2 separate regions of the Homo sapiens genome follow, and region 1 is linked to region 2. Evidence: fine-mapped expression QTL. A gene starts in region 2. The other region holds a variant in brackets. All regions are shown on one strand. Distances are from middle to middle. Region 1 overlaps ZZZ3 (zinc finger ZZ-type containing 3). Region 2 holds the start of USP33 (ubiquitin specific peptidase 33).

Region 1 (5,527 bases), 110 kb before region 2:
ATTAATAAAAACAAAAAACAGAATGGTGGTTGCCAGGGACTAAGGGAGGGGGAAATGTCACGTCATTGCTTAATGAGTACAGAGTTACAGTTATGCAAAATGAAAAACATTCTGGAGATGGACCACAGTGATGGTTACACACAATGTGAGACTATATTTAATGCCACTAAACTGTAACCTTTAAAAATGGTTAAAATGGGGCTGGGCACGGTGGCTCAGGCCTATAATTCCAGCACTTTGGGAGGCCAAGGCAGGCAGATCACAAGGTCAGGAGACAGAGAACATCTTGGCCAACATGGTGAAACCCCGTCTCTACTAAAAATAGAAAAAATTAGCTGGGCGTGGTGGCGTGCATCTGTAGTCCCAGCTACTCTGGGGCTGAGGCAGGAGAATCACTTGAACCTGGGAGGCAGAGACTGCAGTGAGCCAAGATTACACCACTGCACTCCAGTCTGGGCGACAAGAGCAAAACTCCATCTCCAAAAAAAAAAAAAAAAGGTTAAAATGGTAACTTTTACGTTACATATATTCTGCCACAATTAAAACATAAAAATTCAAAAAGCACAAGCAACCAAAGAAAAATACAGATAAATGGGGATCATCAAAATTAAAACCTTTTGTGCTTCCAAGAACTCAAGAGAATAAAAAGATAACCCATAGAATGGGAGAAAATATTTGTAATTATCTCTCTATCTATAAAAACCCTTACAACTTAATAAAAAGATAAACCTAATCTAAAAATGGGTAAAAGACTTAAACAGATATTTCTGCAAATAAAATATACAAATAGCCAATAAGCACATGAAAAAATGCTCAATATCATTAGCCCTCAGGGATATGCAAATCAAAACCACAGTGAGATACTTCACACCCACTAGTATTGCTATAATAAAAAAGACAACAAAAACATGTGTTGGCAAAGATGTAGAGTTATTTGCACCCTCATACATTGCTGGTAGGAATGCAAAATGGTGCAGCTGCTTTGGAAAATAGTTTGGCAGTTCCTCAACAAGTTAGACATACAATTACCATATGACCCAGAAATTCCATTCTTAGGTATACACCCAAAAATAAAGGAAAACATATGTCCACACAAAAACATGTACAAAAATGTTCATAGCAGCATTATTCATAATAGTTATAAAGTGGAAGCAACTTAAAGGTCCATCAACTGCTGAGTGAATAAACAAAACAAGGAATATCATATCAACACAATGAAATACACTTAAGCCATAAAAAACAGTGAGGTATTGACAAATGCTGTAACATGGATGAACCTTAAAAACATTATGCTAACTGAAAGAGGTCAGTCACAAATGGTTACATATTGTAAAATTCCCATTTATATAAAATACCCTGAATAGGCCAGGTGCAGTGGTTCACACCTGTAATCCCAGCACTTTGAGGGGCCTAGACAGACAGGAGGATCACTTGAACTGCAGGAGTTCGAGACCATCTTGGGCAACATGGTAAGACCTTGTTTCTACAAAAAATTAAAAAATTAGCCAGGTATAGTTGCACATGCCTGTAGTTCCAGCTACTCAGAAGATTGAGGCAAGAGGACTGCTTGAGCCTGGGAGTTTGAGGCTGCAGTGAGCCACGATTGTGCCACTGCACTCCAGCCTGGGCAAAAGGGCAAGATTCTGAAAGAAAAAAAAGGCAGGCAGGCAGGCAGGAAGAATCCAGAATAGGCAAATCCATAGAGACAAAAAGGAGATAAGTGATTGCAGAGACTGTGGGAGGGAGGAAATGGTAGAAAGTGAGTGCTATAGGTATGGGGTTTCTTTTTAGGGTGATGCAAGTATTCTGCAATTAGGTACTACTGATGGTTGTCCTACTTTGTAAATATACTAAAAATCACCAAATTGTATAATTTAAAAGGGTGATTTTTATGGTTAAGTGTATATCTCAATGTTTTTAAAAGATAAGAGAATCGGCCAGGCGCGATGGCTCACGCCTGTAATCCCAACACTTTGTGAGGCTGAGGTGGGTGGATCACCTGAGGTCGGGAGTTCAAGACCAGCCTGACCGACATGGAGAAATCCTGTATCTACTAAAAATACAAAATTAGCCAGGCGCAGTGGCACATGCCTGTAATCCCAGCTACTCGGGAGGCT[G/A]AGGCAGGAGAATCACTTGAACCTGGGAGGCGGAGGTTGCGGTGAGCCTAGATCGTGCCATTGCACTCCAGCCTGGGGAACAAGATTGAAACTCTGTCTCAAAAAAAAATTAAAAAAGATAATATTACAAATAACTTCATGTCAATAAACCCAACTATTTAGATGAAATGGACACATTCCATGAAAAACTGCAAATTCCCCAAAACTCACTCAAGAAATTATTTCTTAAATATCCTTAAAGAAAGTGAAGCTAGGCCAGGCACGGTGGCTCACGCCTGTAATCCCAGCACTTTGGGAGGCCAAGGCGGGTGGATCAAGAGGTCAGGAGGTCAAGACCATCCTGGCTAACACGGTGAAACCCCGTCTCTACTAAAAATACAAAAAATTAGCCAGGTGTGGTAGCAGGCGCCTGTAGTCCCAGCTACTTGGGAGGCTGAGGCAGGGGAATGGCGTGAACCCAGGAGGCGGAGATTGCAGTGAGCTGAGATGGCGCCACTGCACTCCAGCCTGGGCAACAGCGAGACTCCATCTCAAAAAAAAAAAAAAAAAAAAAAAGTGAAGTTATAGTTAAAAACTTGGCAAAAATAAATTCCAGGCCAAGGTGAGTTCACTGGTAAATTTTAACTATGCCACTTGATATACATTTAAGGAAAAAAATAATCCTAATTCTACCCAAACTCTTCTAGAAAACTGAAGAGGAACATTTCCCAACTCATTCCATGAGGCCAGGATTAGTCTGATTTCAAAACCAGACAAAAAAATTACAAGAAATTTGAACTACAAACCTATATTCCTCATAAACATAGATGTAAAACTCCAAACAACTTTTTAACAAACCAAATATAATAATATTTTTAAAATAATACACCATGACCAAATGATGTTTATCCCCAAAATGTAAGACTGGCTTACATGTACATAAGGTTGGTTCAATGCAATTCACTCTATATTAACAGACTGAAAAAACAAAACCGAAAAGAAAAAATAGGAAATAAACATAACTGGCCCTTTTGACATCAGGCCTTACATATTGCCTTATGTTTGGTACCCACGCCTCTCCATAGATAGATGGATATCTTTTCCATCTCTATGAAGCTTACTCCTTTTTCTATGCTTATAACAGAATACCAGAAATTGGGTAATTTGTGGAAAATAAATTTCTTCCTTTCTTTCTTTTTAAATAGAGACAAGTTCTATGTTGCCCAAGCTGGTCTCGAACTCCTGTACTCAAGCAATCCTCCCACCTTTGCCTCCCAAAGTGCTGGGATTACAGGTATAAGCCACCACACCGAGCCAAGAAATTTATTTCTTACTGTTACAGGGGCTGAGAAGTCCAAAGTCAAGGAATTGTCTCTGGTGAGAGCCTTCTTGCTCATGAGGATTCTCTGAAGAGATTTGAGGTAGCACAGAGCATCACAAGGTGAGAAGGCTGAGCGTGCTAATGTGCTAGCTCAGGTCTCTCTTCTTCTTATAAAGCCACCAGTTCCCCTCCCATGATAACCCATTAATCCATTAACCAATTAACCCATTAATCCATTCATGAGGGCAGAGACTTCATGATCCAATCACGTCTTAAAGGTCCCACCTCTCAATAGTGCCACACTGGGGATTAAGTTTCAACATGAGTTTTGGATGGGACATTCAAACCATAGCATATGATAAGCCAATAAAAGAGTTAATATTTATATAATGTGATCAAGTAAAGGGTTTTTAAGATCAAAATTAATTTTCTTCTAGAATTACCTTTACTTTGATTGGGTTTAGTCAAGTTTAAGCCCCTTCAGCCATGTGAAGACACAGTGAGAAGATGGCCACTTATAAACCAGGAACTGGGCCGTTGCCAACACTTAATCTGCCCTTGGACTTTTCAACCTTCAGAACCATGAGAAATAAATGGCTGTTGTTTATTTGCTACCCAGTCTATGGTTTTCTGTTACAGCTGCCCAAACAGACTAAGACAATAGCTAATGAGACAGACAAACAGACAAGGCAGATAGATAAAACTCTCCTTCAGGTAGCAACAAATAAAGCTGAATTTGTCAGCAGTAGAGCAACAGAAGCAGAGCACTAATATGACATCATTTAAACGTACTGACTTAGCTCAGCCTGAACCAGACAAACACCCTGGACTTTTCAGTTCCAAAAAATCCCTTTGTTGATCTATGACTTAGAAGAAGAAATGAGATGAGAAGGCACCATATATCATTCTTAGGTCCAAACCAGCTTGTTAAATCCTGGAACAGACTAACTTGAAAATGATTATTGGACTAGCAAGACTGATTCATTTCAAGATACATTAGTTTAGCACACACAGTGTACTATGTACTTATCATTAAGACATAATCTCAGCTCTGGACAGCCATTCATCTTCAATGGACATTCATAAATGAAGCATAAATAATTCAGCAAGGCCTAGGTGAAATGCCTGATGTAAAGATCCATCTATATATTTAATTTTTACAAATGTTTCCCTTTCATCAACTTACAGTTTTCCTCACAACAATATATTTTATAGCTGCCTAACTGTATACTGCATTTTGAAAATGCTTACAAAAAATTTTAATTCTTGGCTTGCTTTAAATATTTTTTAAATTTGTCAGTTAAATTTAGGAAAAAAGTCAAAATTTCCATTAATTTTATTTAGTGATACTTATCCTTAAGGATGTTATTTAATGTCAATTTTTTTTAAGGCCAGTGACAGGTAATAAATAAATGACTACTTAATCCTCTCTAAAAGCCATGCTCCATCTGTCTTAAGAATTCTCAATGGTTTCTGTCAACACAACAATCAAAAAGACTAGGAAAAGTCTTAAAAGCAAATAAAATAATCTAAAGGAGACGGATCAAGGTAAAGATTCACAATGAGTTAGGATATTTTACCATTTCTCATGGGACAGAGTCCTCCCTGAAATATCTTTTGATATCAAAGTCAAGGTCTGAATATCAAAATATTGAGACCTTGAATCTTATCAGATATGCACCATTGCTCTAAATTCTTGAATTTGTACTGTCTTCAGAGGGCACAAAAATTTTTACCAGCATATTAACCAACCTCTAAGCTGGACTCTCCGTCACCTCTAAGAATCTACAGGACAGGTAAAGCAGTTCCCAAGCTAGTTTCAGTATTTCAAAATCCCTAAGTGCCATAACAGATCATATATAGTTGATTCTCATAAAGTTGCCATGAGCACTGAATTATCAAATACTCAATACAAGAGAAATTCAGAGTGAAGTTCCTGCTAGCCTCTGACTAAAACATTTTCAACAGCCTAACAACACATATCCTTGTTTTATCTGTACTTTTATTTAAAAACACTTTTATTTCTTTATTTATTTACTTACTTTTCGAGACAGTCTCACTTTGTCGTCCAGGCTGGAGTGCAGCGGTATGATCTCGGCTCACTGAAACC
Region 2 (5,000 bases):
CCGATGTTTTCTCAAATGTAAGTTGTACCCTTCAAGGAGCTCATTAATCTGTTCACATTACAAATATCCTCCAATATTTACCTTTCAAAGCTCACTCATCTCAAATACTACCTTCACCAAGCCCCAATCACAAGTAATGTCTACCTCACCTAAATTCCTAAGGAACTTTTATAAAAACTCATAAGGCATTTACTGTTGTGTAAAAAATTGCCTCACTTGACTACAAGTTCTTTGAAGGCAGAAACCACGTTTCATTCTTTTTGTTTTCCAAAGGGCCTTGTCCTGGTAGACTCAAAATATTGACCTAACTTAACCTTCTGAACATTTGACAGCATGATTTATTTTGATATACATATTGTTTCTTAAAGACTAGTTCTCAGTATACAATATAGCACATAATTCATGTGCCTTTTTATAGATAGTTAAAAGCAACTGTACTCATCTCACACTCTTTGGAGTTTTCCCACTTATCAAAATGTTCCTGCAGACACATGTACACTTTTAAAGTTTAAAAACTACACTAAATAGAGCTGTTACTTATTCCCTTCCTTTTTAGAAATGGTTACATTTCACATTTCTCACCAAAAATCTTTCAGCATTTTATGTACTTCATTTTCTTGTGAAGAGTCCACAGTCTTGTCATATGTTATAGTTCACAGTGCTCCAATCTTAATCTATCTGAATTCCCAATCTGTATCAAAAGCTGCTTTGGCAACATTATTTCAGGCTTTACGAAATTCTGATCCTTACACAATCTTGAAATGTTTCTGTCATGGGGAAAGACTTTATTTCTTGGCATTCGGAGCTCAGAGGACTGGCATGAGGATCAAGTAAGACTGTGTAAGTGAAAGGTCACAGAAAATTCTAATACTACTACATAAATGTAAGAATTATCATCTCAATTCTGAATTTCAAATATTTAAAATCACCTATTTACTACAATCTAATGTCATTAAACTGCAGTTATATAAAAAGACTTGCTTACTGTTAAGTTATAAAAAGTTCAGAAAAGACAGAAAAAAAGTGAAACTGGCCATAAACCAGATCATAAATAGGAAGCAATCTTAAGTAGACTATCCCTCTTGCACATATCAGGTCAAATATTTTATTCCAATAATATTTTTTGTACTGTCCTTTTTTTTTTTTTTTTTTTTTTTGAGACAGAGTCTCGCTCTGCTGCCCAGGCTGGAGTGCAGTGGCATGATCTCGGCTCATTGCAAGCTCTGCCTCCCGGATTCACGCCATTCTCCTGCCTCAGCCTCCCAAGTAGCTGGGACTACAGGCACCTGCCACCATGCCCGGCTAATTTTTTGTAATTTTTAGTACAGACGGGGTTTCACCGTATTACCCAGGATGGTCTCGATCTCCTGACCTCGTGATCGTCGGCCTCCCAGAGTGCTGGGATTACAGGCGTGAGCCACCGTGCCCAGCCCTGACCTTTCTTTCAATCCTGCCAAAGTAATGAAATAATACAAAGCTCCTAGCATTGTGTAACTATTTCTATTATTTTTTCATAAAACTAGCATTGTCTTTAAGATTCCTATTTTCTCTCTTATTTATAATAGTATGAATTCACTAACAATATTTGTATTATGCTCAAATCAAATAGCCTATGACGATAATGTGACTTGGTCAGACCTTTCCAAATAAGACAGTAGGAAAAACGGAACTAGGACGGCCTTGTTACTTTTTGTAACACGTTTTTCTTAAAGGAAAAATAATCTGATTAAACTTAAAAATTCTCTACATCCACATAGTTATTAAGCAAAAGGCCTAGAGATCGTTACGGTAAAATTCACCTTCAATTTAAGTCTATGCTCCTGCCAGAATTTCACCCTCTGGCTCAATTTTCCAGGCCTAATACTGATTCTATGAGAATGTAAACTCCAACGGTACTTGAGTGCAAAACACCCAGGAAAATCTCATCGTCCAAGAGCTCAACGTAAAACCCTGTAAATATTCAAATGAAGAGCGTTTTGTATACGAGAAATATAAGTAAAGGTCTGGGAAACCACACACTATGGATCTTTCATCCAAACAAAGGCTGCAGATGGACAGAAGGTAAGGGGTAACCTCTCAGTCAAGATCAAACATTGGTCGAAGAAAAATTCCAGGGACGATGACACCTCGGTTTTTCCGTTCACAACAACAAACAACGGGGCCGGCCCCCTCAACAGCGCCGAAAAGCGAAACCAGAACCCAGGAGCCGGCGCGCTGCAGGGCTTTCAGTCACCCACTGAGAGGGACTGGCAAGCCTGAGTGGGGAGACCGAGGAAGGGAGCAGAGCCCCCGCTTCTCGGGCTCACCTGCACCTCCCGCTTCCAGGGAAGAACCCCTGAGGACCCTTCCTCAAATCAACGACCGGTTCCCATCCTCCACCGACCGTTGACAGGGCGACCACTAGATTATCTCTGCAACGCAGAGCACCGAGGGGCCAAGGCCTTCTTCCCGCCCGCGAACCCGCCGCCACCCAGGACCAAGAAAAAGAGGCTGCTGCAGCGGCCGCAACCCCAGCGCGCGGAAGCGAGAACAGAGACCGGACCCCGGACGCGAGCGAAACGCCCTTGGGCCCCGCGCCCCTCCCAGCAGCGCCGCGCTCACCTCCACGGCCTGGCCCGCGGGACCCGCCAGCTCGACCAACAACGGCCTGCAGCCGCACCTCCGCAAGCTCCTCTTTTCCTTCTCAGCTCTCGGAGAGGGGCAGTGTCGCGTCAGGAGGGCCGGAAAACGGCCCCGCAGCGCTGCCCTCGGGGGGTCCGCCTCCTGAACTGGCCACTTCCCGCAGCAGCCGCGGCTCCTTCCGGTGTCTCCGGGGCCGCCGCAGGCGTCTCCGGCGATAGGGGAGGTGGGGGCGGAGCCTCGATGGGAGCCCGCCCCAGGGGCGGGGCCACGGGAGCCAGGCCCAGGTGCGGGGACCCAGGCCGGCTCCCTACTCTGACTGCAAACTAACTGTACAGGGTATGTGCAGCAGTTTGAGGCTGTGAGCTTTTTTTTTTTCGTTTTTCACATGTTTTCTCCTTCTCTTTCACAGTCACACACTACGACCATTATAAGGTCTTGTCTCGATGCATTACAAAAACTGCATTAAGGCTGGCCACTGAAGGGCCTCAGGTTTCCAAACTTGAGCAAAGAAATATTAGACTTAACTTATCCCAATTCAACATTGTATTTCCTCCTTTCATCTTTCTTCCCCCAACTTCTTAGGACCTAGATTCTCTGAAAGCAATTATGTTTCCCTTTTCCACCTATGCAAAGAAGAAATTTATCTCACCATTTTCTCCTTAGGCTAAAATCAAGAGGATCAAATCAAATATTTATTGAAACCTTAGTATCTGCTTAATGCCTGGAGCATGGAAGGAGTCCTGCCTTCTAATTATGTAACTGTTAAAATGCACTCGATTGAGGTTCAAATCTATGAATAAAAAAGGTTATATTAATAAAAAATTGTTAAAATTGCCAGTTTCAATCTGTCTCATGACATCTGACTTTTTGGTCTCCAAAATGGGAGCATGTACCAAAGTATCATGCAAGATGCTCAGTCTCCATTGGAATAGGTAGAAAATATAAAAGCTTCTACTTATTTTTATGGTAAAAATGAAATAAATTAACCATGATACAAAATTCTAGGTAGGGATTGACACTCAGGCCTCAATTTGCACCACAAATGATTGCCTATCCTCGGTTCACTGAGGAGAATAGAAATTTCACAGAATAGAAGTTTCACAGGCAGGCGCCATGGTTCATGCCTGTAATCCCAGCACTTTGGGAGGCCGAGGCGGGTGAATCACTTGAGTTCGAGACTAGCCTGGGCAACATGGCGAAACCCCATTTCTACTAAAAATACAAAAATTCGCCAGGCATGGTGACAGGCACCTGTAGTCCCAGCTACTCAAGAGGCTAAGAGTGGAGGATCACTTGAGACCAGGAGTTTGAGGTTGCAGTGAGCCATGATTGTGCCACTGCACTTCAGCCTGGGTGACAAAGTGAGATATTCTCTGGGAAAAAAAAAAAAAGATGCCGTTAGGAGATGAAAAGTTGTCTCCAGCCGGGCACAGAGCCTCACACCTGTAATCCCAGCATTTTGGGAGGCCAAGGCGGGTGGATTACCTGAGGTCAGGAGTTCAAGACCAGCCTGACCAACATGGTGAAACCCCCATCTCTACGAAAAATACAAAAATTAGCCAGGTGTGGTGGCGCGTGCCTGTAATCCCAGCCACTCAGGAGGCTGAGGCAGGAGAATTACTTGAACCCAGGAGGCAGAGGTTGCAGTGAGCCAAGATAGAGCCACTGAACTCCAGCCTGGGCAACAGAGGAGGACCCTGTCTCAAAAAAAAAAAAAAAAAAAAAAAAAGCTGTCCACAGAGGAGATCTACAGAAGAAAAAAAAAGAAGAGAGACAGAGAGAGAAGAAAAGTTAGGCCAGCAAATAGAATTTATTTGAAATACATATAATTGAAAAGGGGCTCAACTCCATATGTATTTCCAGAAATCAATTTTTAAAAAAACAGGCGACCAAATAGAAAAATAGACAAAAGTCACTTCCCCAGAAATTCTTCTATTGAAAATGTATCAGGGGTATTCTGTTCTTACAGTGTCCTAGCAAATTCAATTCAGCCTCCAAGTCCCACCACCATCCTGCTTAGTAACCAAGGTTCTCTCTGGGCTTACCTGTCCTGGAGGAGTTCTAGGGCAGTGTCAATGCAAGGAAGACAACTGACAAGGCTGTTCAAGATCACCAGGTGCGGTGGCTCATGCCTGTAATCCCAGCACTTTGGGAGGCCCAGCAGGGCAGATCACCTGAGATCGGGAGTTTGAGACTAGTGCGTAGATAATAGTAGGCAAGTACTTCTCAGGTGGACACCAAGTGAAGTCCTTGCAGTGGACAAGTTCTCACAAAACAAACTCACTCTGATAGAATATAATGTAATACCTCTCCCACTTTTAACTTCCGTGAATTCCTGCCTCCCACCCTTGGGTGTTTATCCTTTCATCCCACAGTCC

The links. PIP is the estimated chance that this variant, and not a neighbour inherited with it, causes the effect.
Region 1: its variant is the best candidate, but not a certain one, in a credible set for the expression of USP33 in blood mononuclear cells (TOPMed, PIP 0.75).

The regions. Positions count from the first base shown.
Region 1 is chr1:77,651,537-77,657,063 of GRCh38, forward strand. The region is part of intron 1 of ZZZ3 (zinc finger ZZ-type containing 3); the gene reads right to left. Among named protein-coding and RNA genes, the nearest start is that of ZZZ3, 28 kb to the right of the region's middle. The variant G/A (reference allele first, on the strand shown) is at 2,118.
Region 2 is chr1:77,757,042-77,762,041 of GRCh38, forward strand. It overlaps USP33 (ubiquitin specific peptidase 33), which reads right to left and starts at 2,811. Exons shown (of 24, transcript NM_201624.3): 1 at 2,602-2,811. RefSeq lists a silencer at 2,721-3,000.